4 linked regions of the Homo sapiens genome follow. The protein of the gene in region 3 purifies or fractionates together with the protein of the main gene of each other region. This does not show direct contact. Each region holds a gene or a part of one and is shown on either strand. Other genes may lie near its edges.

Region 1 (7,405 bases), on a different chromosome or scaffold from region 3:
CTCACTACAACCTTTGCCTCCCGGGTTCAAGCGATTCTCCTGCCTTAGCCTCCCGAGTAGCTGGGATTACAGGCATGTGCCACCACGCCCAGCTAATTTTTTTGTATTTAGTAGAGACGGGGTTTCACCATGTTGGATGGGCTGGTCCTGAACTCCTGACCTCAGGCGATCCACCTGCCTTGGCCTCCCAAAGTGCTTGGATTACAGGCATGAGCCACTGCACCTGGCCCATCTCTGCTATTTTCTACTCTACTATTCTCTACTTTTCTTCAGGAGCCACTGAAGCTCAGGTCCCACTGCCAGCAGTGGACCCTCCATTATTACCAGGGCCTAAGGAAGGGGCACAGGACCTGCTAAGTGAGCTAAGGAAGTTCAGGAACACTGATGGTATCTCTCAGGTCCAGTCTAGAGAGAAGTCACAGAGCAGAAGATGGAGCTGTTGGGGCAGGGGAGGGCTCACTATATTCTGTCCTCACTTTATTCTGTTGCTAAAGAGTTCTCTAACCCAGCACTGGAATCATGATGGCCCCTCCACCCCTCGCCCCTCAGTGAAGAGTTCTCAACTGGGGTTCTTGGATCCTTATGAGTCTAGGAGTTCCCTGAAATGACGTGTAGAATTTGGTGTGTATACACCGTGAATTCTCTGGAGAGCAGTTTCATAGCTTTCATCAGATTCCAAGGGGTCCAGGACCTCCCTCAAATTAAAAGTGTCAATTAGCGAGGATTCCCCAGTCTTACCGCACCTCATGAACTGGCTGAAGGCTTTGTAGTTGGTGAGCGTGTGGTAATCCTCCTCAGAGAACACATGCTCCACATCCTCCAGGCCCCAGGTCAGAAGCAGAGTTGCTGATGACTTCTGTTCCACTTGCTGCGGGAGAGGGGCTTTGGTGAAGTAGGTGCTCCTCCAGCCCCTATTCCAGGCCGCACACAGGCCTGTCTACCTACCCACTAGCTTCCCTGGGCTTTCTTGCTTCTTGCCCCATTCTCCAGTCCAGTCTCCATTCCTCCCCTCCTCATGCCCGTCTTTAATGCAGATTTCTCACTCTCATTCCCTAATTCTACTCACCTTTTGCCCCCCATCTCCCTCCCCCTTTTTCCGCCGCTTTGTCTTCTTCTCCTTTTTTTCTCGGTGCTTCCTTCTTCGTTTCCGACCCGGTCCGGTTCCATATTCACTGCCCCCACTCTCTGACTTCTCCCGGTACTCATCTCGCTCAGAACCAAATTCCTCCTCACTGTCCTAAGAGAAAGAAATAAAAATAACATTTATTCATCCCTACCATTGCCAGAAACTGTTCTCAGCACATACCATATCTTACCTCTTTTAATCTTCACAACAATCCTGTGATAGTAACTAATTTTTTATCTCCTTTTTTTTTTTGGAGATGGAGTCTTGCTCTGTCACCCATGCTGGAGTGCACTGACGTGATCTCGGCTCACTGCAACCTCCACCTCCCGGGTTCAAGCGATTCTCCTGCCTCAGCCTCCTGTGTAGCTGGGATTACAGACGTACCACCGCGCCCGGCTGATTTTTGTATTTTTAGTAGAGACGGAGTTTCACCACATTGGCCAGGCTTGTCGCGAACTCCTGACCTCAAATGATCTACCCGGCTCAGCCTCCCAAAGTGCTGGGATTACAGGCGTGAGCCACTGCAACCGGCCTTTATCTACTTTTTACAGATGAGGAAACTAAGGCACAGAGAGCCAAATAAACGGCCTGGTATCCTAGACAGAGGAATGCTGGACTCTTGAATTCATACAGTCTTCCAGAGCTTGTGCTTTCAACTGCTTCTCTTTGCTGCTGAGGACACACTGACAACGAGGCTCTTCACTAGGTTGCAGTGAATGAAGTTAGGGTCCCAGATCCCTGAGATACAGGCCAACAGTGGCAGGGAAGTGGGGGGCCCGGGGGATCAAGCCTCCCTGGCTTCAGAACCCCACCCCCACACCAGTAATCAGGACCAGAGAAAATGTAGGTCTCTGAGAATGGGTCTCTTGAGCCTTGCCACAGAGTTAGGAATTCTTGACACTTACACGCTTCTTGCGTTTTCGGGGTTTTCCTGGCTTGTTCTCCTTCTGCTTCTTGGGTCCTCGTTTTCTCTTCTTCACACCCAATGCTGACGGCAGCAGCCGAATGTCATCCTTATCTTTGAAGCAAAAAGCATCAGAAAACCTAAGCCTCTAGGTTTCCAGCCTCTGAGGCCCCTCAACTTGCCCCTTCCCCACCTCGGCAGTTCCCACTCTCTAGGAAGCATTAACTCCTCCAAGCCCTGCCTCCCTTCACTGGATGCAAACAGAAAGTGTTTCGAGTACTCTGGGATGCTCTGGTTCTGAATGGGAGGTCAGGGGTCAGAAGAGAAGAGCAGCCAAACCACTCCCCTCCCTCCCCTCCTACTAACAAGAGACCAGGCTCCAGGCCATGGGCTCTGACTGTGGCAGGTCCTTTCAGTCACCGCCAGGGCTCCTCCTGCCTTCCCCCTCACTTCGCCAGCTGGCATCCTGCCCAGGAACTGGGGAAGCCATGCCCAGCTGCTGGCCTGGCCTGACCCCAGCACTTGGAGTGGGGAGACACAAGCTGGCAGCTCCCTAAGCCAGATGCTGGGGAGGGAGAGCCAAAGGTGGACACCTGGGTTCTCACACTAACACCCTGGGGCCCTGACATCCTTTTGCCAAGAGGGAGGCCTCTATTTACATTTCCTCGGATAATTACCAGGCATCCTGTCACCCCAACACAGTCCTGGAGGAAAAGAAATCCTCAGCTGGTCATTTTTACTTCTTGCCCACAGGATCACAGTGTCTGCCGCCTTCATCACACAGGAGAAAGTCTCCACAATTACCTAAATATTCCTCCTCCCAAGTAGCCTAAAACCTACCTTCAATTCTATTCCCATCTCCCTGCTCCCTTTGGGAACTAGGGGGCCATACCCTTTGTTTCCCGATCTCACCCTTCACCTCCATATTTTGTTCCAGATATCCTGACCCATTCATCTATACGCAGTATGGGAGACCCAAACAAAGATATAGGCACAGACAGACACACCCAGCATATGCCTTCTCAAAAGCACGCGCGCGCACGCGCGCACCCACACCCACACACACTCTCAGGCCCACAAATCCAGAGGATGGCCTGTACCTGCTTCAGCAGGGATAGGTCCCTGGCTTTCTCCCCAGATGTCTCTGCCAGAGGACCCCAGGCCCCCCACCCCATTATCTGTGAAGGTGTCACTCTGTGAAGGCTTGGGGAACGGAACGGAGAGTTACCCCACATAAAGGAAGACAGGATGCCCCACAGACCTGGGGCCCTGGGGCTCTGGTTCACGTCCCTCCCCTACCAAGCACTAGACTAACCAGCCAGACCTGTCTAGTACAGAGAGAGGCAGCCGATGCAAGATGGGAAAGCCTGGGCTTGGCCCAGCCCCTAGCTCTAGGACACACAATCCTTTCTCCTTCCCTCAACAGCCAACGGAAAATTAGCCACAATTAACACCAGAGGCCTCCGTTTCCACTGCCTCAGAGTCGCTGCCTCGCCTTCCTTCAGTGCCACCTTTCCTGCTAACTCCAGCATCCTGTGTCCCCTTGTGCAGGAAGACACTCTAGGACTGTGTGCGTGTGTGCAGGGGGGTGGCTGCCAGAGCCCGGGTGTGAAACGGAATGGGGACTGTAATAGGAAGTCAGCAAGGAAGGCGCCATGCCCCAGCAGCCGGCTCCCCCTGGCCCCAGGGACTTCGGTTGACTTGAACATGGAAACGCAGGCTGCCGAGGCAGTGGCAAGGGCAGGCCAACTGGCTAAGGTTCAGGGACACGGCCTCGGCCACCACCAGCCAGGGGTGGTGCACAAGCCGGTTCACTCTACTCCCCACCCCAGCGGGAGGTTCCCGAACTTGGGCAGGCGTCGGTGGCGGGAGAGGCAAAGCGAGAACGGCAAGGAAAAGCAAGGAAGGGTAATAAAGCAAATCTAAGTCCCAACCTCGGTCTCAGCAGCCACTCAATGCTGGCCTGGAGCCCAGACTCTCCCACATCCCCGGCTCGGATCTCAGGGAGGCAGGGAGGAGAGAGGCGGGGGCCGGAGGGCGCAGGGCGGAGCCTGGCCGCCCGAGCAAGCGGGAGGAGTCTCGGCCGAAGCCTCGCCTCCCGCCCGCCCCTCTCTTCTTCTAATCTCACCATCAATCTCTCACACATATATTTATTTTTTCTCAAATTCCCCTCCCTCCCCCACAACGCACCACCATAATAGGTCTGCTGCACATGCGTACTGCAGGCAGGGGGTGGGTTTGTATTTTCAGACCTTTTGCAAAGAAACTACCAGAATTTTCCGCACCACCCACAATCATTCCCCACCCCCACCCCCAAGGAATCACATCTATATATTATGTTATATTATTTCTCTCGACTTGCCAGAAGGGGGAGGGAGAAGAAATGAGTTTTTGGCTTCCTGCTCCCTTCCCCCACCAACACGACTGCTATTATTTTAAACGTTTAACAATGTAAGGAGACTGGAGAGAGGGGGAAGGGATAAAATTGGTCTTGAGTAAGAATGTAAAACAAAATGGTGAGAATCAAAGCAGTCGGAATGGAAAACAATGGAAATCTCTCCTGTGCACAAATGCATACTCTAGACAAGGAAGAGCGAGGGCAGCCTGAACAAATTTCCTTAGAGGAGGGTTCTTTTCCCCACACTTAGGTAGACAGAAATAATGAGTGTGCTAAAAATAATTTCCCGAAGTTTTACCTCCGAAAGTCATCTGAGGGGGTGTATCTGGGTCACTCATTCGACTTGGAGGGCTGAAAGGGAGATAAAAATTGCCCAGGGGGAGAGGGGAGGTGGGTTTTCATTTCAGTTGTAAAATGTAAGCAGCCTCTGACGTCTCTTCTGGTCTATTCAGAAAGCCAAGAGGGAAAGGGGAGGCCGGGTTGACACAAAGACCCATCTCAACCTCGGATCCTTTCACGCTTCTCTCCCCAACGTACCCAGATCCGGGACCCACACCACCCCACCCCAGACTCCAAGTCCCAATACAAATAGGTGAGCGCTGCCAAGCCCCTGGCAGGACCTGACGGCCTTTCTTTCCCTCTTTTCAGCGCCTCTGCCGGAGGCAACCCCAAAGGCACCCTCTCCCCACAACTCCTCATTCCTCCTCCTCCTGCCAAGGCAGGGGGCTCTCTGGGAGAACTTTTTCAAAACTTTACCCTTTTTCAGACAAGCTTGGGGGGCGGGGAGACTTTATCCAGTTTCCAGGAGACACACATCCCTCCCCGACCCACAAGAAAGCACCCCCCGCTCCCCCAAAGGTCGTCTCGGCTAGACAGGAACGTTTGCCACAGAAGCCACACGGATCAATATGACAGTTTTACAAAGAGCCCGGAGTTGGCCGTTTTGAAGTTTGGTGCATTTGTGCCGCATGGCAGCCAGAGGCCCGGGGGTGCGGAGGTCCCCCTGCTGTTCCCCAAGCAGGGGGTGTGGACACCCAGATGCTCACCTATCCCAAAGAAGACTAGAAATCACTCCACTAGGAGGGTGGTCTGAGGGGGACACCGCTGGGCGCCTGACGCGGCGCAGCGGTCTGGAGAGCGCCGCCCAGAGAGTGCCGCCGGGTGACTTGTCACCTCGGGGGACGGGTGCTGAGTGATGGTCAAGCTGCAGAACAGCTGGGTGGGCAGTTCACGCCCCCCAACGTGCTCAGGGAGTGGGTGGTTTCAGCGAGAGAGTGAGTGACAGTGAATGGCAGCCACGTGAGAGTCACAGCTGGGCAGCTTGGCCACCCCAGACTGACGGGGTCAAGAGGGGGACCCCCCCCACCGCACTTGACACAAAAGAGCCCAGAGCCCCGGCGAGATGAAGGGGGTGGAGCCGGGGGTATCTGGTTCCCCAGACACTCTTCTCTCCGCTCCCCAATCCGAATGGACTGCTGTCCCTGCACAGGCTGGGGGAGCGAGGGGACGAGCTCCTGCCTTATTCCAGGAAGTGGTCTGCGTGGACTGTGGCCACCACCTGCCCCTACTCATCAGCAGCCCACAAACATTCACAAGACCCCTCCCTCGCGTGCCACCGCATGCCCCTCAGTTGGCGGGCACCTAAGTCTCCGCGGGTGGAGGGGGGTCCGATGGACACCGTCCCCACTCTGCCTGTCCAAGTCCTGAGCGGAGGGGGCAGGCCCGTCGGCTGCTCCGTGCGGGGAAACCCCACTCTCCCTCGGTCCAACCCCACCGGGGCCAGAGCCCGAGGGGCGCTCGCGCGGCCGCCCCTCCCCCACGTGCCCCTCCCCCACGCCGCCGTCCGGCCGCCAGGGTCTCGGCGGTCCCTCGCTCGGCCAGGGAGGGGGCCCTGGCTTCGCCTTGGCCGTTTCCTGCCTACCCCCTCCCCGCCGAGGGTAAAAAAAAAACCTCCTCCTCCTCCTCCCCCGAAAGCCGCGACCGAGTGGCCCGGTCCGCGCGCGCAGCTCGCGCCCAGCGCTCTCCAGCCGGGGTGGCGGCGGCGGCGGCGGCGGCGGCGGCGGCGGCGGCGGGGGAGGGGTGCGGCGGGGGAGGGGAGGAGGCCTGGCCCCGCGGTCGCAGCCGCCACCGCCCGCCCCGACCTCCCGGACCGCCGCGGGGCCACGGGCCCGAGCCCCGGATTCGCGCTCCGGATTCGCCTCGGCTCGGCCGCGCGGTGGGTGCCTCGCCCCCGCCCGGCTTCGCGCGCCCGCGGCTCCCACTCGGGCTTGGGGGGGGAGTCGGGGCGGGCGCTTACCTGGCGGCGGGGGCGGCGGCGGCGGGGGCAGCGGTGGCGGCGGCGGCGGCGGCGGCGGGAAGAGGTGGCAGCCGGGGGGGCTGTGGCGGTCGCGGCCCCGGTCGTGGCCCGGCCCGCGCCCGAGTACTCCCTCGTCGTCGTCCTCCTCATCGTCCTCGTCGGCCGCCTCCACCTCCTCCTCCTCCTCCTCGTCGCCCTCTTCTTCCTCCTCTTCTTCCTCCTCCGACACCACCATCTCCTCCTCCTCCTCCTCCTCGTCCCTCAGAGGGGAAGCCATCCTGTGGCTCTGGCCCCCCCACCACCCCCCCACCCACCGCCCGCCCGCCTCCCCCACCGCTACCACCACCACCTCCTCCTCCTCCTCCTCCTCCTCCTCCTCCTCCTCCTCGGCGGCGGCGTCCTCCTCCTCCTCACCGCCTCCCCCAGCCCCCCAAACCCCCGGGCCACCCCCCTCCGAAACCCCCACCCTCGGGGCCGCCGTCTGAGGAGGGGGGCCAAACCACCCCCAAAAATTGTCTTGGAAAAAATTGAGGAAAGACTTTTTTTCCTTCTCTCTTTCCTCCCAAGAGAACAAGAAAGGGGGATTTAAAATATATATATATATACATATATATATATATATATATGTATATATATAAAAGTTTTCGACTTCTCTCTGCCCCCCTCTCCGTTGCTTTAAAT
Region 2 (3,302 bases), on a different chromosome or scaffold from region 3:
TCTCGCTCTGTTGCCCAGGCTGGAGTGCACTGGCGCAATCTCAGCTCACTGCAACCTTTGCCTCCCGGGTTCAAGTGATTTCTCATGCCTTAGCCTCTTGAGTAGCTGGGGCCACAGGTGTGCACCACCACACTCAGCTAATTTTTGTATTTTTAGTAAAGACGGGGTTTCGCCATGTTGGCCAGGCTGGTCTCAAACTCTTGGTTTCAAGTGATCCACCCGCCTTGGCCTTCCAAAGGGCTGGGATTACAGGCGTGAGCCACGTGCTGGCCTTAAAATTGTGTTTATAAGCCAGGCATGATGGCTCGATACTCGGGAGGCCGAGAGCTGGAGGATCAGTTGAGCCCAGGGGTTCAAGGCTGCAGTGAGCTGTGATTGCACCACTGCACTCCAGCCTGAGTGACAGAGCAGGAGCACATCTCAAAAAAAAAAAAAAGAAAGAAAACTAAAAAGTTAAATAAAACAAAATCAGAAACCAGAAACACAATAAACACTAAAACTCAAGATTGCAAAACACCAAATCTATATTTACACTTCCACATATAATAACATAACTTTAAGCTGAAATATATCATAAATAAAACAAGTAATGTCTACTGTTCGACAACTTAAGTATCAACAATTAAAATAAATCAAACTGGAATGAAATAAATACATAAACAAAAATCCAACGAATTGTACCTCTATTATATGTACTGTTGTCTCAAAGAAAAAAAAATATAAAACCAGTAGTATACCAATAGTTAATACTGATGGACACAAAAACATATTTTGAAGTACAAAGGGCTGTAGGAAAATAATTGGTATTTTTATACATTCAGAAATGTGGTTAAAAAGAGAAATCTGAAAGCCCAAAAAATTCCAGCATAATACAAATCGACTTGTTTTCAAATAGATTTGGTGATTCTTTTTTTTAAATACAGGTTTAAATTCCAGCCCTCTATTATCACATACCCCCTTTAAGATTTATGGTTCTAGTCACAGCAAGCTCTCTGTAACACTCATTGGATTAGGCAAAGATTGAGTCAATCATCTTGCAAATGTGTTAATCTTCAAAAATAGGCTATAAAAGTGCAAAACTATGAAAACAAAATCTAGATTATGTACATATGGCTCAGCTTGTGAACAGGAAAAAAGGTCAATAGTGTACACTTTCCTGATACAAAGCACTTCATTGCAATGCCAACAGACTGATCTCAAATGAGTTCTCCCTTGTAACACAGGAGCTAAGACTTCTATCAAGGAGGACATCTTACGTTGCATAATTTAAAAAAAAAAAATTTTTTCTAGGATTACCCTTGCTCTATGGAGAACAGCGAGGCCAGAAAAATGAACAGTGCAAATTTATTTTTGAAACAGTTTCTTAATAAAATATTTTGTGGTCACTAAGCCCATGTACTAATAAACTCAGCCATGGACAGCATATTAAAGAACAAAAGTTTAAAATATCTAGGAAGCCAGCTGGTGGCCATCTTCTCTAAAACCCAAATTGCATGTGCACTGAGAAAAATGTTACTGCTTCAAAACAACCAAAAATGGGAAAATAACTGAGGTCTAGAAACAGATTTTCTCTTTCTAGACTCCCAGCGGGCTCGGCCAGCAGTTCCTTATTCAAAATCAATGTGTCTATAATCAACTCTAGTATGTCCACAGTTCACCCAAATGCCAGATACATTAAGACTACCAAATACAAACCTAAAATGTTCCCCCCAAAATTTCCCTTAAAACTGTTCCCCAATACCTGCAATTCACAGATATAATTTAGCATTTTTGTTTTTATATACTAATTTAGGCAAAACCCCCCCGCCACTGAATCGTCCAACAAAAATGATTAATTTGACAGAAACAAATTTAAATAACTGCACATACAGTTTATGTTTATACAACGTGTGGCTGCTCTACAGAGAAAATGCTTGTCTGTAGACACACTCTCTTAAAAATCCTACAAGCCATCCCAACGCCCTCAGTCAAGGATCCTGGAGGTTCCAGGACAATCTGGAGAGGCGAGGAAGAAGGTGCCTTCCCCATCTGAGATGCTCAAAGTTGCGATAAAATGCTGCCAGCTTCCGAATGGCTGACCTCGATATCTGCAGCACATATCATAGAGGGTCAATACTTCCATTAACAATTTTAAGACAACAATAGATTTGGGTGGATTCAACATAATACAAAATCATTGACAGTTTAAAAAAAAAAAAACATACATTTTAAATGAAAGAGCACAATAGCAGAAACTGCTCCAAGTGATGAGCTGCATTAGAGAAAAGGAATACACACAGTATTTGAACAAGCAGGTTTACAACTTAGATATTTACAGATTTTTACCTGAGGTGCAAGCATTATATACTTTTCCCCCATCCCGCCCCACCCAACCCAAATGATTTCTTTTCAGCAGCGCTCAAGTATGCAAAAATTCCACTTCTTATTTGGTCAATTCTAAGAAAAATATTATTCAGGGACAAAATAGAGATTTCCAGTCCCCATGTATGTAAGTTCCAACTGTTCCAACTAGTTTGTATTGCTATTTGGTACAAAAGTTAACAGAACAACTTTACACAACTGTAGTGTTCCTTGCAGATTCCTCATATGTTTTATGTACAGTACAATCACAGCTTATTTCAGTAGCTTTCACCATTCGCTTCTCAAAGGATGAAGTAAAATTTAATTTCATGGGGAGTAAGCACTGACATCCACCAAGACCTAAGGAAAACAACATTTTTTAAATGATTAAGATCAAAACTGAATACAGTTTAGAAAATTCTTTCTTTAAAAAAGCGTAATACATAGAACCAAACTGACCTAGAAATGCAATGGGTTCTATTTGTTGTTGTTGTTTTTGAGACAGTCTCACTCTGTCGCCCAGGCTGGAGTGCAGCGGCACGATCTTGGCTCACTGCAACCTCTACCTCCCAGGTTCAAGCGATTCTCCTGCCTCAGCCTTCCAAGTAGCTGGGACTACAGGCATGCACCACCACGCCCGGCTAATTTTTTTGTATTTTTAGTAGAGAAGGGTTTCACCATGTTGGCCAGGCTGGTCTTGAACTCCTGACTTCAAGTGATCTGCCCGCCTTGGCCTCCCAAAGTGCTGCGATTACAGGCATGAGCCACTGCGCCTGGCCCTGGGTTCTATTTAAGTTCAACTTTTGCTATGAAAGTATTAGGAGAATGACTAACTAGATAATGCTGCGAACTTTGGAGCTACTTTTAGTAATTTAACTGAGATGACTTAACCAAGAATCAGAATTCAGTAAAAGGCAGTTGCCATGCACAAGAAAATCCCAGCTACTCAGGAGGCTGTGGTG
Region 3 (7,033 bases):
TTGCTGAATGACTACCTGACCTTATTAGGTTAAGCAGTTTCTTACTGTTTATAAGTGAAGATTTAACTCCTTGGCATGGCATTCAAGGCTCCCTTTGAAATACTGAGCCCAGCATACACTTCCCACCGCCTCCTTCAGCACTCCTCCCATACACCACACTGGCCTACATGCTGCCACACTGGCACCTCTGCACTTCTGCTAGTGCCATTCCTTCTACTAAATGCCACCCTTACTGCCATCACCTCCTTCTTCACATGGGCACCTCCTCATTTTCCAAAGTCCAGCTTAAACATCAGCACCTCTGTGAAATCATCCCTGGCTACCCTCCTGCCAGCCCAGGCAGTAGTTTGTCTCTCATTCCTCTGATCATCCCTCAAAAACACAGGCACTAGGCCAGCCTACCCATGGAACATGCCACACAGCCTTTCCAGAATCTCTGGATGGGCTGACTGGCAAAGGGCTTTCCCAGACAAAGCCAGTCTGCAAAGACTGGAGTAAGTCCCTACTTCTTCTAATGTGCAGACATCAATGTAAGGCAATGAGGAACACAAAAAACCAAGGAGACATACCACTACCAAAAGAACACAATAATCTCCCAGCAGCCCAAAGAAATGGAGATACAAAAACAGTACTAATCATAGACTACTGGGTATGTGCCTGCCTTCCCCACCATAGTCCGTGAGGGCAAAGATCATGTCTTAGATATTTTTGTATCCAGCAGAAGACCTGACCCATAGAAGGAACCAATAAATATGGGTGTTTGTTCCCCTAACTGACCACACAGCAATCCAGGGTTCAAACACTTCTATCTCCCCACCAGCTTTAGTAAGGAGAGATTCCTGAGGTATGGTGGGGGTGCTTTGCTCCCCTCCACCGCCAACCAATCCCCTGTTTGTAGCCCAAGGGGTGGATAAAGCCACTTACCGGCTTGAAAATGGCCTCATAGGACTCGTCATCAATCCCGTCTCGGAGCGGGTAGTTAACAGCATAATACTTGCCTTTGCCAGCCCCGATATCCTAATTAAAAAGGCCATTAAAGTAAAACTGAAGGATGAAGCTTGAAGGAAGGTCAAGGATAGGGGCTGGAGGGATAAAGGAAGAGGTTCAAGAGAGACAAGCTAGGCCCATGATGTGGGCCAGGACAGAACAGAGGTACCTTGTTAGTACCATTCTCTTCACTGGCAAATCTAGCTTCACTGGCAAATCATCTCTGGACATAGCATTAAGCCTACCCCCAGACTGAGAGCTCTTGATGGGACCAGAGATTGAATAGCCTACCCTATAGCACAAGATTTCTACCTTGGGATTGGGTTAGAGCTGGCTGGCAGGTGAGTCACAGAAGTGACAGCCACCCTTGACAACCCTTTCCACTCCAGAGAGCTCTAATGCTCACTCCTCTTCCCCCATGCTCCCTCTCTAGGGTGTTGTGGAGGGAAGGAGAGAGGTAAGAAAGTCCTTCCCAGTAACCTCAAAATAGTGAGTGCGCCTATTTAAGTCCAGCACTTTGGGAGGCTGAGGCGGGTGAATCTTGAGGTCAGGAGTTCGAGACCAGCCTGGCCAACATGGCAAAACCCCATCTCTTTTAAAAATACAAAAATTAGCCGGGCATAGTTGCACGCACTTATAATCCCAGCTAAATCCCGGCTATTCGGAGGCTGAGGCACAAGATCGCCTGGAGGCGGGAGGCGGAGGCTGCAGTGAACCGAGATCACGCCACTGCACTCCAGGCTGGGTGACAGAGAGAGACTGTCTCAAAAAAAAAAAAAAAGTGAATGCTCATTTATTCTAACGCTTGCCATGGCAAACAACTGAATTAGTGCCACTTTTTTACCCAAGGGCTACCAGGCATGGCAAAGCAGCTGATTTCACCACATTCATGCTAATAGAAGCAGATGGAACAGTTCAACGAAGTAGCTTCCAAGGATTCTTATCCTAAGGTTCATGGATGGGCTTCAGTAAGGGGACTTGTCTATTAACTATTCTATATCAGATGTAAAATCTCATGTACTTTTCTGGAGAGACAGTCCATAGTTTTCAGTCAAAAGGCTAAAGGGGAAAGTGACCCAAAAACATGAAGAACACTTGAGATGTCCTTCAGAGTCCCAATTCCTACCCCCAAACTCAAGGCTTATGAGACATAAGAATAGTGTGATGCAACCCAGCTGTGGCCAGGAGGAAAGTACAGTGAGTCAGGAGACCCCTCTTCTTTCTCTGGCCCTTTATGTCCCATCATTCCCTTCCTCCAGAATAAGGAAGGGAAAGAGATCAGGGCAAGTGCTTCAGATTGGGATGTGGTATTCTGATTGGCAGAAGAGGCAAGAAGCAATTTTTAGTGGCATGAGATAGGAGAGAGAAGTAGAGCTGCCAGCTGAGGGTAAGCCGGTTGGCTCCTAAAGGGCGTTCTCACCCGTAGGTCCCCAGTTCCTGGGAAGTACTCTCCATACTTATGAAAGGACACAGTCATGACCCGGTCCGTGGTGTAGAAGGCCTCTTCCACGCCGTCACCATGGTGAATATCAATGTCAATGTACAGCACCCTCTGGTGATACCTAGGATCAGAAGGGGGTCAGGGGTCTGGGGGCTCTTTGGGGATGGGACGTGCCAAGGGCGCTAGCTCCCAGCTTACCGGGCTGGCTGCCTCCCTCAGGTATCTCTAAGCACCAGAGACGTGGAAACTGGCTGAAGGAAGGTGGAAGAGCGGCCGGGTGTCTCCAGAGGCCTGACCAAGCCGACCAAGTCCGATCTTCCTACTCTACAGCCAGGGTCAACTCCAGCCACACAGGGACACTCTGGAGGCAGGATCTGAGCAGCATCTGCCCCTGATCATGCCGTGGCTCAGATCAAACCAAGACCCCATCAAGGAGATGATGGCCAGAGACACTCACCGAGCACATCCTAGCCAGCACATCGGTAGGAAAAGCAAACTAGGGAGGCAAGCCCAGGGGAAGAGGGAAATGGGAACCTGGCCTAAGGTGCTCTTCCAAGAGACAAGGCCAGGCAGGCATACTTTAGCAGTTCCAGGATGGCCAAGACGATATCATTGACGTAACAGAAGCCAGATGCCTCGGACTTCTTTGCATGGTGCAGGCCCCCAGCCCAATTCACAGCGATGTCCGTCTGCTGCTTATTAAGTTTCACAGCACTTGCTGGGCATGAGAAAAGAGAACATAAGCCTGTTACTAAGCCACTCTCCCCTTCCTCCAAGAAGCCCAGGGAACCTAGTGAAAGGTTAAGACCTGCCTATTCAACAGCTGTATTGTGCAATTCATAGACCAGTCCCCTCCCTCCCACCCTACTTCAGCAGGGAATACATGATACTGTCTACTCGTAAAAAACGATTTTCCAAACTGAGGGTAGTAACCCATTAGCAGGCCTTAAAATTGATTTAGTACATCATGATTAGTGTGTGTGTGTATATATATATATATTTTTTTAATGAAATAGCATAGAAAAAAATATCAGAGTAACAGTAAGGGTAACTGCTCTTTTGTAAAACTCTGGCTTCAGAGTGAGTGAGTGTGTGCATGCATGCATATGTTATATGTATCCTGGATTGCATGTGTAAATTTATTTCTTACTATGGCTCATGGTCAAGGAACTTTGAAAAAATACCAAAGATAGGCCATGCGCGGTGGCTCACACCTGTAATCCCAGAAGTTTGGGAGGCCAAGGCGGGCACATCACCTGAGGTCAAGAGTTCGATACCAGCCTGGCCAACATGGTTAAACCTCATCTCTATTAAAAATACGAAAAAATTTAGCTGGGCGTGGTGACATACACTTGTAGTCCCAGCTACCTGGGGAGGCTGAGGCAGGAGAATCGCTTGAACCCAGGAGGCGGAGGTTGCAGTGAGCCAAGATCACGCCACTGCACTCCAGCCTGGGTGATGGAGGGAGACTCTATTTCAAAAAAAAAGAAAAAGAAAAATTACCAAAGATAGTGCTGATACACTAGGTCAAAAAGCACTAGCACGAATAGGTCCCAGAAGAAGTAAAAGATAAATACACACCCATGTGTGCAAGTGCATTTGTGGCAGTGTTAATTTGTTGTTGTTTTTTGAGATGGAGTCTCACTCTGTCACCCAGGCTGAAGTGCAGTGGCGCGATCTCGGCTCACTGCAACCTCCGCCTCCCAGGTTCAAGCAATTCTCCTGCCTCAGCCTCCCAAGTAGCTGGGATTACAGGCACACACCACCACGCCCGGCTAATTTTTGTATTTTTTAGTATAGATGGGGTTTCACCATGTTGGTCAGGCTGGTCTCAAACTCCTGACCTCAGGTGATCCACCCTCTTCAGCCTCCCAAAGTGCTGAGATTACAGGCATGTGCCACCGTGTCCAGCTGCAGTGTTGATTTTAACAGCAATAAAAGCATAGATTGATCCAAATTATCAAGAAGAGGGACAGATTATATCAACTCAAGTAAATCCACAACATGGAATAATCATAGAGCCACAAGAAAGCAAGCTGTAGAAAACTACAGACAATTTCGTTAAGTAGGAAATGCAGGCATAAAACCATATATATGTGATATGTATATAACCCACTTTTGTAAAATATAGATGTTGTATATGTGTGACACAGATATAAACACACACACAAAAGAATGGCCATACAAACACCAACATGGTAACAGAGGTTATCCACCAACCCTGTGACTGTGGGTGATTGTGTTTTTTTCTGTGCACTTCTTTGTTTTCTGTGATTATATTGGTGGGGCAGCGGGGATGGACACAATGATTATATTGGTGGGGGATCACAGGAAAATAAATATTTGTTAAGAAAGCGTTTAGAGTAATCCTGGAGATAACCCAAAAGTTGCAAATGGAAGTGGGAGATACATGAGGAGTATTTCTGACCTCTAAAGGTAATTACCATACTTTTTCATAGGACAGATTCACAGATGATGACACTTCCATTTTTATAGCACTTTGCAGTTCACAAATTGCTTTTACGTACAGCATCTTAACAACCCCAGGAGGTCTGCGGGGAACGCCTGTACATAAGATCTCTTAGTAGGAAAGGACAGTCAAGGACACCTGTCAGTACCATGTCAGAGATTGAACCTGGGCTGGGACTGAACCAGAGGGACATTTTAGAGGCTTTTTAAATTTTTTTTTTGGAGGCAGGGTCTTGCTTTGTTGCCCAGGCTAGAGTGTAGTGGTGTGACCACGACTCACTGCAGCCTCAACCTACTGGGTTTAAGCCTCAGCCTCCTGAGTAGCTGGGACTACAGGCACGAGTCACCATGCCCGGCTAATTGTTTTTACTTATTTTATTTTTTTATAGACAGGAGGGTCTATGTTGCCTGGGCTGGTCTTGAACTCCTGACCTCAAGCAATCCTCCTCCTCAGCCTCTCAAAGTGCTGGGATTACAGGTGTGAGACACTACACCAGCCATTTTAGAGACTTCAGTAAAAACCACAGGACCATTCTACATGGTTTCAGATCAGCCAACTAGGATAGCAGCCTAAAAGGCAGACCTCACTAGAACAACCCAGTCTACCCCTGGGGAGAAGATGAATATTCCTTACCCACAGAACCACCAGTAGACAACTGACAGAACTCAAACAGGCCATCGAATACTGGACAGTCCTCACCAACGTTGACTTGAAAGAAATAAGCAAAAGGTTAGTTTCCACAATTTCCTTTAGTTTACATATTTATGAGCTGATGGAAAAAAACACAGAATTTAAATTCAGGAGGTGTGGGTTCTAGTCCAGGCTCTACTTCCTGGCTGTATGACTGCATCAAGTTGTTTAACATCTTTGAGCTTTAGCCCATTATTATTTTTTTATTTTTTAGAGCCAGGGGCTTGCTCTGTTGCCCATGCTGGAGTGCAGTGGCACAAACATGGCTCATGTGCAGCAGCTTTGACCCTCACCTCCTGGGCTCAAGCAATCCTTCCACCTCAGTCTCCCAAGTACTTTGGACTACAGGTGCATGCCACTATACCCAGCTAATTTTTTTTTCTTTTTTTTTTTTTTAGAGACAGAGCCTCACTATGTTCCCTAGGCCTCATGCAGTCTTCTTGCCTTGGCCTCCCAATAGGCATGTGCCATCACACCTGGTCTTAGCCCATTATCTATAACAAGCAAAACTGATATCCCACCTCACCCACTGGTCAGAAAATTAACAAAAATCTAATATGGAGAAGCAGTTAGCAACTTGGAAAATGTTGGTTCGTTTCTTGAGGGAGAAAAACTTATCCTCTGGCCCTCACGCCAGCTGACAAACAAGGGGCAAGAACAGAGACCCAGAGAACTATCGTTCACTGCGCACGTACAACACGCCAGACACTGCGCTACATGCGTTAAATACCCGAGATCATTCATCTTCACACAAGCTTCTGAGGTAAGATTTGGTCCCATCTTATAAGTAGGGAAACAAGGCCTGGCACAGTGGCTCACACCTGTAATCCCAGCACTTCGGGAGGCTAAGGCAGGAGGACCACTTGAGGCCAGGAGTTCAAGACCAGCCTGGGCAACATGGAGAAACCCCATCTCTACCAAAAACATAAAAATTAGCCAGGTGTGGTGGCAGCTGCCTGTAATCCCGGCTACTTGGGAGGCTGAGGCACAAGAACCACTTGAACCCGGGAGGCAGAGGTTGCAGTGAGCTGAGATCGCGCAACTGCACTCCAGCCTGGGCGAGACAAGAGTGAGACCCTGTCTCAAAAAAATAAATAAATAAATAAGTAGGGAAACAGGTTCAGAGAGGTGAGCTGTTAGTAAATGGCAGAAGCAGTATGCAAGCCTCAAGCTTTGGTTTGTCTGTTTTTTTTTTGAGACGGAGTTTTGCTCTTGTTGCCCAGGCTGGAGTATAGTGAAGTGATCTTGGCTCACTGTAATCTCTGCCCTCCAGTTTCAAGCCATTCTCCTGCCTCAGCCTCCCGAGTAGCTGGGATTACAGGTACCTGCCACCACACCTGGCTGATTTCCGCATTCTTAGTAGAGACGGGGTTTCACCATGTTGGCCAGGCTGGTCTCAAACTCCTGACCCTGTGATCCGCCCGCCTCGGCCTCCCAAAGTGCTG
Region 4 (7,309 bases), on a different chromosome or scaffold from region 3:
CCCAGGCTGGAGTGCAGTGGCGCGATCTCGGCTCACTGCAAGCTCCGCCTCCCAGGTTCACGCCATTCTCCTGCCTCAGCCTCCCGAGTAGCTGGGATTACAGGCGCCCGCCACCACGCCCGGCTAATCTTTGTATTTTTAGTAGAGATGGGGTTTCACCGGGTTGGCCAGGCTGGTCTTGATCTCTTGACCTTGTGATCCGCCCGCCTCGGCCTCCCAAAGTGCTGGGATTACAGGCGTGAGCCACCACGCCGGGCCTTGTTTGTTTTTTTAAACCTTTCAAAATGTGACTCATGTTTTGTGGCACGGGTTAGGTCTCCAGGAAATAGACTGCGAGACAAAGATTATGTGCAGGAATATTGTCGGGGTTACCCTTGGGGTCAACACCTGTCAGAGAGTGAAGGAAGCAGGGCTGGAGGGAGGGAGGAGCGAGCTGAGATGACCAAGCCGCCTCCAATCCTACAGGAGCTCTGCAGCCTCACGGTTGACCCCAGTTGGTCACAGGTGCCTGGGTCTTTATGGATCTGTACCAGCCAGTCGCTGATGTGGGCCGCCCCTCAGAGGGATACTTGACCCTGAGCAGAGGGGGAAGTTAGTGCTTGTGTAGGGGAGGGTTTGATGATGCACCCAGCATCCACCACAGGCCACCCCATGCACTACTCACAGCTCCTCCAGTATCTTGTGAGGCCTCTTTTTTCTAGGGAAAATTTGCAAGAACGACACTGCTTGGGTGAACTACAGCGTCCCCTGCCTCCCCGCCTCGGGGCTGCAATGGATTCATCACCCCCAGCTCCACCACGCAGTCTCCATCTGCTCCAAGAGGTGTAGCGATGCGGTGACCTGGACCCTCATCCCGGGACACCATGCCTCTGTCAAACTTGGGAGCTGCCCGGTGACCATGAAAACCAGGCAGAGAAGAAACAGGGAGCCTGGAGTGGAGGCACATGCAGGCGTATCTCCTCCAACGTGAGGTGTCCACTCAAACCACTGTGCCACGGCCAGGGGCACCCTCTCCAGCCTCTCCCCTTAAGCTCCCTGCTCAAGATTCGCTGCTCTTTATTTTCTGAGTTTTACTTCATTTTATGCTCATGGAATAATTGCAAGAATGAGTATAGTAGAAACCCTCCGTACTGGCCGGGTGCTATGGCTCACGCCTGTAATCCCAGCACTTTGGGAGGGTGAGGTGGGTGGATCACGAGGTCAACAGATCGAGACCATCCTGGCCAACATGGTGAAACCCCATCTCTACTAAAAATACAAAAATTAGCCAGGTGCGGCACATGCCTGCAGTCCCAGCTACTCCAGAGGCTGAGCCAGGAGAATGGCGTGAACCCGGGAGGTGGGGCTTGCAGTGAGCCAAGATTGTGCCACTGCACTCCAGCCTGGGCAACAGAGCGAGAATCCATCTCAAAAAAAAAAAAAAAAAAAAAAAGATTTACACAGGTTTATCTTTTCTGGCATTAACTTTTTTTTGTTGTTGTCGCTGTGGTTTTTTTTTTTTTTTTGAGACGGAGTCTTGCTCTGTCGCCCAGGCTGGAATGCAATGGTGCCATCTCGGCTCACTGCAGCCTCCACCTCCCGGTTTCAAGCGATTCTCTTGCCTCAGCCTCCCGAGTAGTTGGGACTACAGGTGTGCACCACCACGCCCGGCTAATTTTTTGTATTATTTTAGTAGAGATCAGGTTTCACCATGCTAGCTAGGCTGGTCTTGAACTCCTGACCTCGTGATCTTCCTGCTTCAGCCTCCCAAAGTGCTGGGATTACAGGTGTGAGCCACAGCGCCTGGCCTGTTTTGTTTTGAGATGGAGTTTTGCTCTTGTCGCCCAGGCTGGAGTGTAGTGGCGCAATCTCAGCTCACTGCAACCTCCGCCTCTCGGGTTCAAGTGATTCTCCTGCCTCAGCCTCCTGAGCAGCTGGGATTACAGGCACCCGCCACCACGCCCCATTGTGGCATTAACATTTCTGAAGAATACAGTCCCTCTTTTGTTTAACAGAATATTCCTTATTTGGGTTTGTCTGAAATTTCCTCATATGTAGATATGGGTTGTGCATTGCTGGCTGGATTCAGTGATGCCGTGTCCTGCTTTGGACACCACATCCAGGTGCACATGGTGTGCACCTGCCCTTTACCAGGGATGCTGAGTTTTATCACCCACCCAACAAGTGGCTTCATTTCTCCACTGCGACTAACAGTCTACGGAGACAGACTTTCAGACCTTAAAATATCCTTCACTCTTTTTTTTTTTTTTTTTTGAGACAGGTCTCACTCTGTTGCCCAGGCTGGGGTGCAGTGGCACAATCACTGCTTACCGCAGCCTCGACCTCCTGGGCTCAAGAGATCCTCCCACTTCGGCCTCCAGAGTAGCTGGGACTACAGGCACATTATCGTCATGCCCTCTAATGTTTAAAGTTTTTTTTTTTTTTTTTTGAAACAGTGTCTCACTCTGTTTCCCAGGCTGGAGTGCAGTGATCTTAGCTCACTGCAACCTCTGCCTTCCCAGGTTCAAGTGATTCTCTTGCCTTAGCCTCCACAGAATAGCTGGGATTATGGGCACTCGCCACCACGCCCGGATAATTTTTGTATTTTTAGTAGAGACAGGGTTTCACCCTGTTGCCCAGGCTGGTCTCAAACTCCTGACCTCAAGTGATCCTCCTGCCTCTGCCTCCCCAAGTGTTAGGATTAGAGGTGTGAGTCACCGTTCCAAGCCACAATACCCTTCTCTTCACCCAAGTCCTCATTTGACATCTATGTGATGATTCTTGCCAAGCCCTCTCCTAAGAGTCTTCCCTCGTTTTGCCAGGTGGACTCAAGCCCTTGTCTTCGGGCCCCTCCACCTGTTACAGCACAGCACCTCACTCTCTTATCTGTTCATGCTTCTCCCTGCTTCACAGGACCTCTGGCTACCCAGCACCCAGTTGAGGACTGCATAAGATATGTGTTTAGTTCACTGAATGACTGAATGAATAATAACAAATGAATAATAAAGGAAGGAACCAACTCTTGCACAAATCAGTGAGGACTCTTCAACACGAGGGCCAGAACCCTCAATCTCAATGATGTAAACCAAAAAAGGAGTGAGGGTAGACCCCTCCAGAGTGGTTCTTCTATCTCTTGGTTGGTGAATTCTCAGAGGACTGAGTAATGATTTTGCATCAGGAATCAAGGCTGATGCATGTCAAGTTCTCACTATTCATTGGCTGATCACTGGGAAACAGGAATGAGACTCATTCTCTTCTTCCTGGTCCCCAATTCCCTTCCTCCTGGTCCCCAATTCCCTTCTTCCTGGTCTCCAGTTCTCTTCTTCCTGGTCTCAGTAGGAACCGCCCTCCACTCATTTGCGCAAGCCAGACATCTGGAGGCCATCCTTCACTCTCTCCAGCTTCCCTCCATCAGCGAGTCTTGTGGTGTCCACCTTCTCAAGTCTCTCTGCACTCTGGTCCAGGCCCCACAGCTCCCACCTGGCCCCTGCCTCTTCACGCCCCACCCCTGCTTCCTATCCTCTCTCTGCATCGTGCGCCCCGAAGATTCACGGCACTTATCCGTCTCAAATTTAAGGTGTGGCGAGTCCTTGCCTTCCCATCCTCCACTCTAAACGCCCTGAAGACAGGCGTTAGGGCTGTCTCCTTCAAACCCTCAGGATCAGAACGTGCACGTGTTCCAGAAATGTTCAATCTGCGAAACGACGGACTGCAGAACCAAATGGCCCTGGGGTCAAGCCCACCTCCCTGCCTCCCGCCTTGGGCTCTCCGGCGCGGGGCCACCGTTTCTAAAACCTCTCCGACTGGTGCGCGTTCGCAAGCTCCCCGATTGGTTCCTCCGCGCGCTAGTTTGCTCATCACGGGTGCGAAAGTGCAGAAAATTCCAGAACCACGCAGCCCGGACACCAATTCTGGCTCTATCACTGACACTCTGGGTGGCCCGTCGCCCTGGGCCTCAGTTTCCTAGTCTGCCACGCGGGGTATTAACAGCGAGCAGCCGAGGGAATGAAGAGGTCACACAGGACCACGTGGTCCCCACGCAGGTGTGATTATCAGGAATTCGTATTTTTATGGAATGCAGTCTCCTCCGCCAAGGCCAAGGCCAAGATCAGGGTCCAGCAGAGACGGCCGGAAAGACACCGCAAGCTCGCCAGAAGCCGCCGGCCACGCTCGGCTGCGCGCCCGCGCCCGCGCCCGCGCACCTACTACGCGCCCGGCCCGCTCTCCGCCCCCTCCAGGCTCCGCCCCCTGCCCCGCCCTCCAGGCTCCACAGCCAATGAGTGCGCGGCCCCTCATCCGGGGATCCCGGCGCGGCCACCGCCTCCCGCGCACACACGGCCATGGCGGAGGTGAGTGAGCGGGCCGGGGGAGCCGGCCCCCCGCCCCCGCGCGTCCGCGCCCCCCGCCGCCGTGGCTCGGCCTCGTCGTGGGCCCCAGGGACGGAGAGCCCCGCTCTGGAGCTCTGAGGCCGGCCGGGGCGCCTGGCCCGTCCGGGGCCGGAGGGGCGCGGGGCTCCATCGGCGGCCGCCCCCGGCCGGCCCCCACCCCCCAACTCCCCCGGCTGCCACATCGCGGGCTGCAGTGCGCATGCGCGGCGGCGCGGGGCGGGCGGGGGCCGGGGTGGGGGAGGGGAGGGACGCGGGGCGGGGCTGGTGTCGGGGGTCCGGTGGGCGCGCGGCTCCGTTCCAGGGTCCGGCTCCGGTTCCCGGCCCCGGCCCGGGCCCCGCGGCGCGCAGGCCTCCCCTCCCGCGCCTTTGCCAACTTTGCCGAGTGCTGGGGCCGCCAGGCGCCCCGCGCTCCCCATCGGGATCCCGGTGGACCCACCGCGCCTCCGCCGCCCGCGAGCCCCCCGGCGGGGCTGGGTCAGACCCCGGGCGGGATTTGAACTCCCGACGCGGACCCGCCTGGCGCGAACTGGGCGCAGGGTGGGTGGGTCTGCCGGGGCCTAGAGAGCGTCGGGGCTGATCTCAGAAGAGTTGGACCAGCCTCTCCCGGGCACGAAGTTACTTCTGGAGCCTCCTCCCTCGTCCAGGAAACAAGCCCGGGACCCTTTATCTGAAATGTTTGGGACCAGCTATATTTTGGAATCCAGAATTTTTCCAATTTGAGGATCTGTGGGATTTTGGACTGTGATGTTTGATCAAACCCACCTAGGACTGTCTAGGATAAGACAACAGATAGCTTCGTGTCAGGTCAAACCAGGAAGGAAGAAACTTTCGCTTTTGAAGCTTTTTTTGATTTTGGAGTGGTGGATGAGCCTGTGTGGACTTGCTTTCACCTTGGAGGGCCCTGGTGAAGATGGAAAGAGATAATGTAGGTGAAGGTGCGGCGGCTGCGAGGTGCTCAGTCAGTGGGACTCAGTGCATGACTTCTGTGCGCAGAAGTTACGACAGGCGGGCAGACTCAAGAGCTGATCCTATCTCTGGGATAGAGCCCAAAGGAAAAGGTGCCCACCCAGCCAGGCACAGCCGCCTCGTGGGAAGCCGGGATTGGAACTGCGGCCTGGCCGTGGTGCCACGTTGCGTGTTTATGTCTTGGGCGTTGTGGGAGGCAGGACTGGCCATTCTCTCCCCCTGGTGACGACCTCAGGGGCAGTAACAGGCCCTGTGTTTATGCCAAAGACGGTGTAGGTGTCTCGATACTAGGCCAGACCACCGGCCAGTTCCTTCATCGAGAATTAGTTCTTCTTGAGACGCTTAGGGAGACTGAGTCCCCATGCAGATGGTGGCTGTCCTCCAGGGTCGGAGGCAGAAGCCGCGTCTCCCAGTGGCCCTGCAGCGACGTGGTGGTCGAATGAGTTGTGCTCCTGGAATCTGGGCAACACACGTGGCCTGACAGGTAGCTCTGTGTCTGGGATGGCACAAGTCAGACTCCCAAGCCAGCCTCCCCCAGAGCTGCCATGTGGCTGTTCTGCCCTGCTCTAGGCTGAGCTCCGTAAATGTGCACAGCAGCTTGTGGTCCGGCTGCTCCTGTTAACCCTGTTTTACACTTTGGGGTGGTGCCCTGTTGAGTGAATTTGATTTGATTTTCTAAGGAGGTCCCGCTCTGTCCTCGGCCTGAGGATCTGGGAGTGAATGGAGCAGACAGGGCCTCTCCTACAGGGATGCAGAGTCTGGTCAGAGAGAGACGTGGGTGGGTTAGGACCAACAAGTATGAGGTGCTGAGCGTGAGGAGCCATGGCAAGCTGTCTGACCACCGGACTTGTTCTGTGTGGTCTTGGGCAGGTTGCCCAGTGACTCAGAACTTCCTTTTCCTCATCTCTGAAATGGGAAGTTTAATGGTCACCCTTCAGAGCTAGGAGGTCTGATGAGGTCCTGCCACAACGGCTTGTACATGGAAGTTGAATCTTGTGAAGTTGACGATATTCCACTGTTTTTAACCCGTAAAAGTGGCAATTTGTAACTTTATAGCACGTGATCAGTACTAGCTACTTTATTCTGTATCAGTATCCCAGAATAATCATAAGCACCACAGTGGCAGACGGGAATGCTTCATACTTTTCTCAGGCATACTAGATTGATCTTTTAAAAACCTAAGAGCACCATCTTTTGCTCCTACCTAAAACCCTCCATGGCTTTTCATGGTCCCTGGGATAAAATGCTCCTCCTTGCTGAGTCCCACAGCCCTGTGAGGTGGTCCCCACGGATCTGCCCCCTACTCTAGGGCCCTGGGCTCCTGTTTGCTGGTGCACTCTACCCATTTGGGGGCTGCCAACGATGGTTCCACCTCGACTGAGGCCCCCCAGGCCTTCCCTGACCCGCAGTTGCAGAGCCCGTGCGCCCTGTTTTCTCTTCTCGGTACCATACATGTCCACTTGTTTGTTGTCTGTGTCCAAAACTAGCAACTCCATGTGGGTGGAGGCAGGTGGAACTTGTTTCTCAGGTTAACCACCACGCCACTGCCTTGCTGAGCCCAGAGTGGGCGCCCAGGGAACATTGGTCAGACGGAGGAGTGGGGTGCTGGGTAGTCCAACAAGCGCCTGGCACTTGAGTTGGTGTGGGTGGGAGGAGGGTCAAGCATGGCTCTTAGGAGGAGGTTGTTTCAGTCACACTGGGGAGAGGGCTTGGGGCATGGGAGAGGTAGGTGCAGCCATCTTGGCGAATGGAACCTGCCACCCTGTCATTTTGGGTTAAGCTTTGCAGGGTGGCCTCTTGTGTTTTTGGTGCACTCTATACCTGTGGGGGCTGCCCTGGGGGAAGGGCTGGTCTGTGCTCTGCACCCAGTCCTCTGGTGCAGTCTTTATGTTGAGTAGCTGGCTGCCGCTTCTACTGCCTGAAGACCCTGGTGGACGCCTGGGTCTGTGGCCTGTTGTCCTCTGGACCTTGTTTCT

What was found.
Region 1: the proteins of HDAC1 (region 3) and CHD3 purify together in Homo sapiens (affinity purification with mass spectrometry; 15 studies listed by BioGRID and IntAct, with this or other methods). This does not show direct contact.
Region 2: the proteins of HDAC1 (region 3) and ZNF217 purify together in Homo sapiens (co-immunoprecipitation; 7 studies listed by BioGRID and IntAct, with this or other methods). This does not show direct contact.
Region 4: the proteins of HDAC1 (region 3) and MIER2 purify together in Homo sapiens (affinity purification with mass spectrometry; 5 studies listed by BioGRID and IntAct, with this or other methods). This does not show direct contact.

Annotation. Positions count from the first base shown.
Region 1 is NC_000017.11:7,884,403-7,891,807, reverse strand, and holds the start of CHD3 (chromodomain-helicase-DNA-binding protein 3), read right to left. Parts: upstream 3,020-7,405; 5' UTR 2,986-3,019; coding exon of another isoform or gene 2,943-2,985; 5' UTR 2,808-2,942; coding exon 2,708-2,807; intron 2,145-2,707; coding exon 2,032-2,144; intron 1,238-2,031; coding exon 1,067-1,237; intron 869-1,066; coding exon 744-868; intron 1-743.
Region 2 is NC_000020.11:53,566,565-53,569,866, forward strand, and holds the end of ZNF217 (zinc finger protein 217), read right to left. Parts: intron 2,701-3,302; coding exon of another isoform or gene 2,552-2,700; 3' UTR 507-2,551; downstream 1-506.
Region 3 is NC_000001.11:32,323,052-32,330,084, reverse strand, and holds part of HDAC1 (histone deacetylase 1), read right to left. Parts: intron 5,607-7,033; coding exon 5,532-5,606; intron 3,147-5,531; coding exon 3,008-3,146; intron 2,942-3,007; exon of another isoform or gene 2,627-2,941; intron 2,550-2,626; coding exon 2,408-2,549; intron 1,018-2,407; coding exon 925-1,017; intron 1-924. UniProt on the Homo sapiens protein: Histone deacetylase that catalyzes the deacetylation of lysine residues on the N-terminal part of the core histones (H2A, H2B, H3 and H4).
Region 4 is NC_000019.10:341,793-349,101, reverse strand, and holds the start of MIER2 (mesoderm induction early response protein 2), read left to right. Parts: upstream 1-4,305; 5' UTR 4,306-4,319; coding exon 4,320-4,328; intron 4,329-4,627; exon of another isoform or gene 4,628-5,277; coding exon of another isoform or gene 5,278-5,292; exon of another isoform or gene 5,293-7,309. UniProt on the Homo sapiens protein: Transcriptional repressor.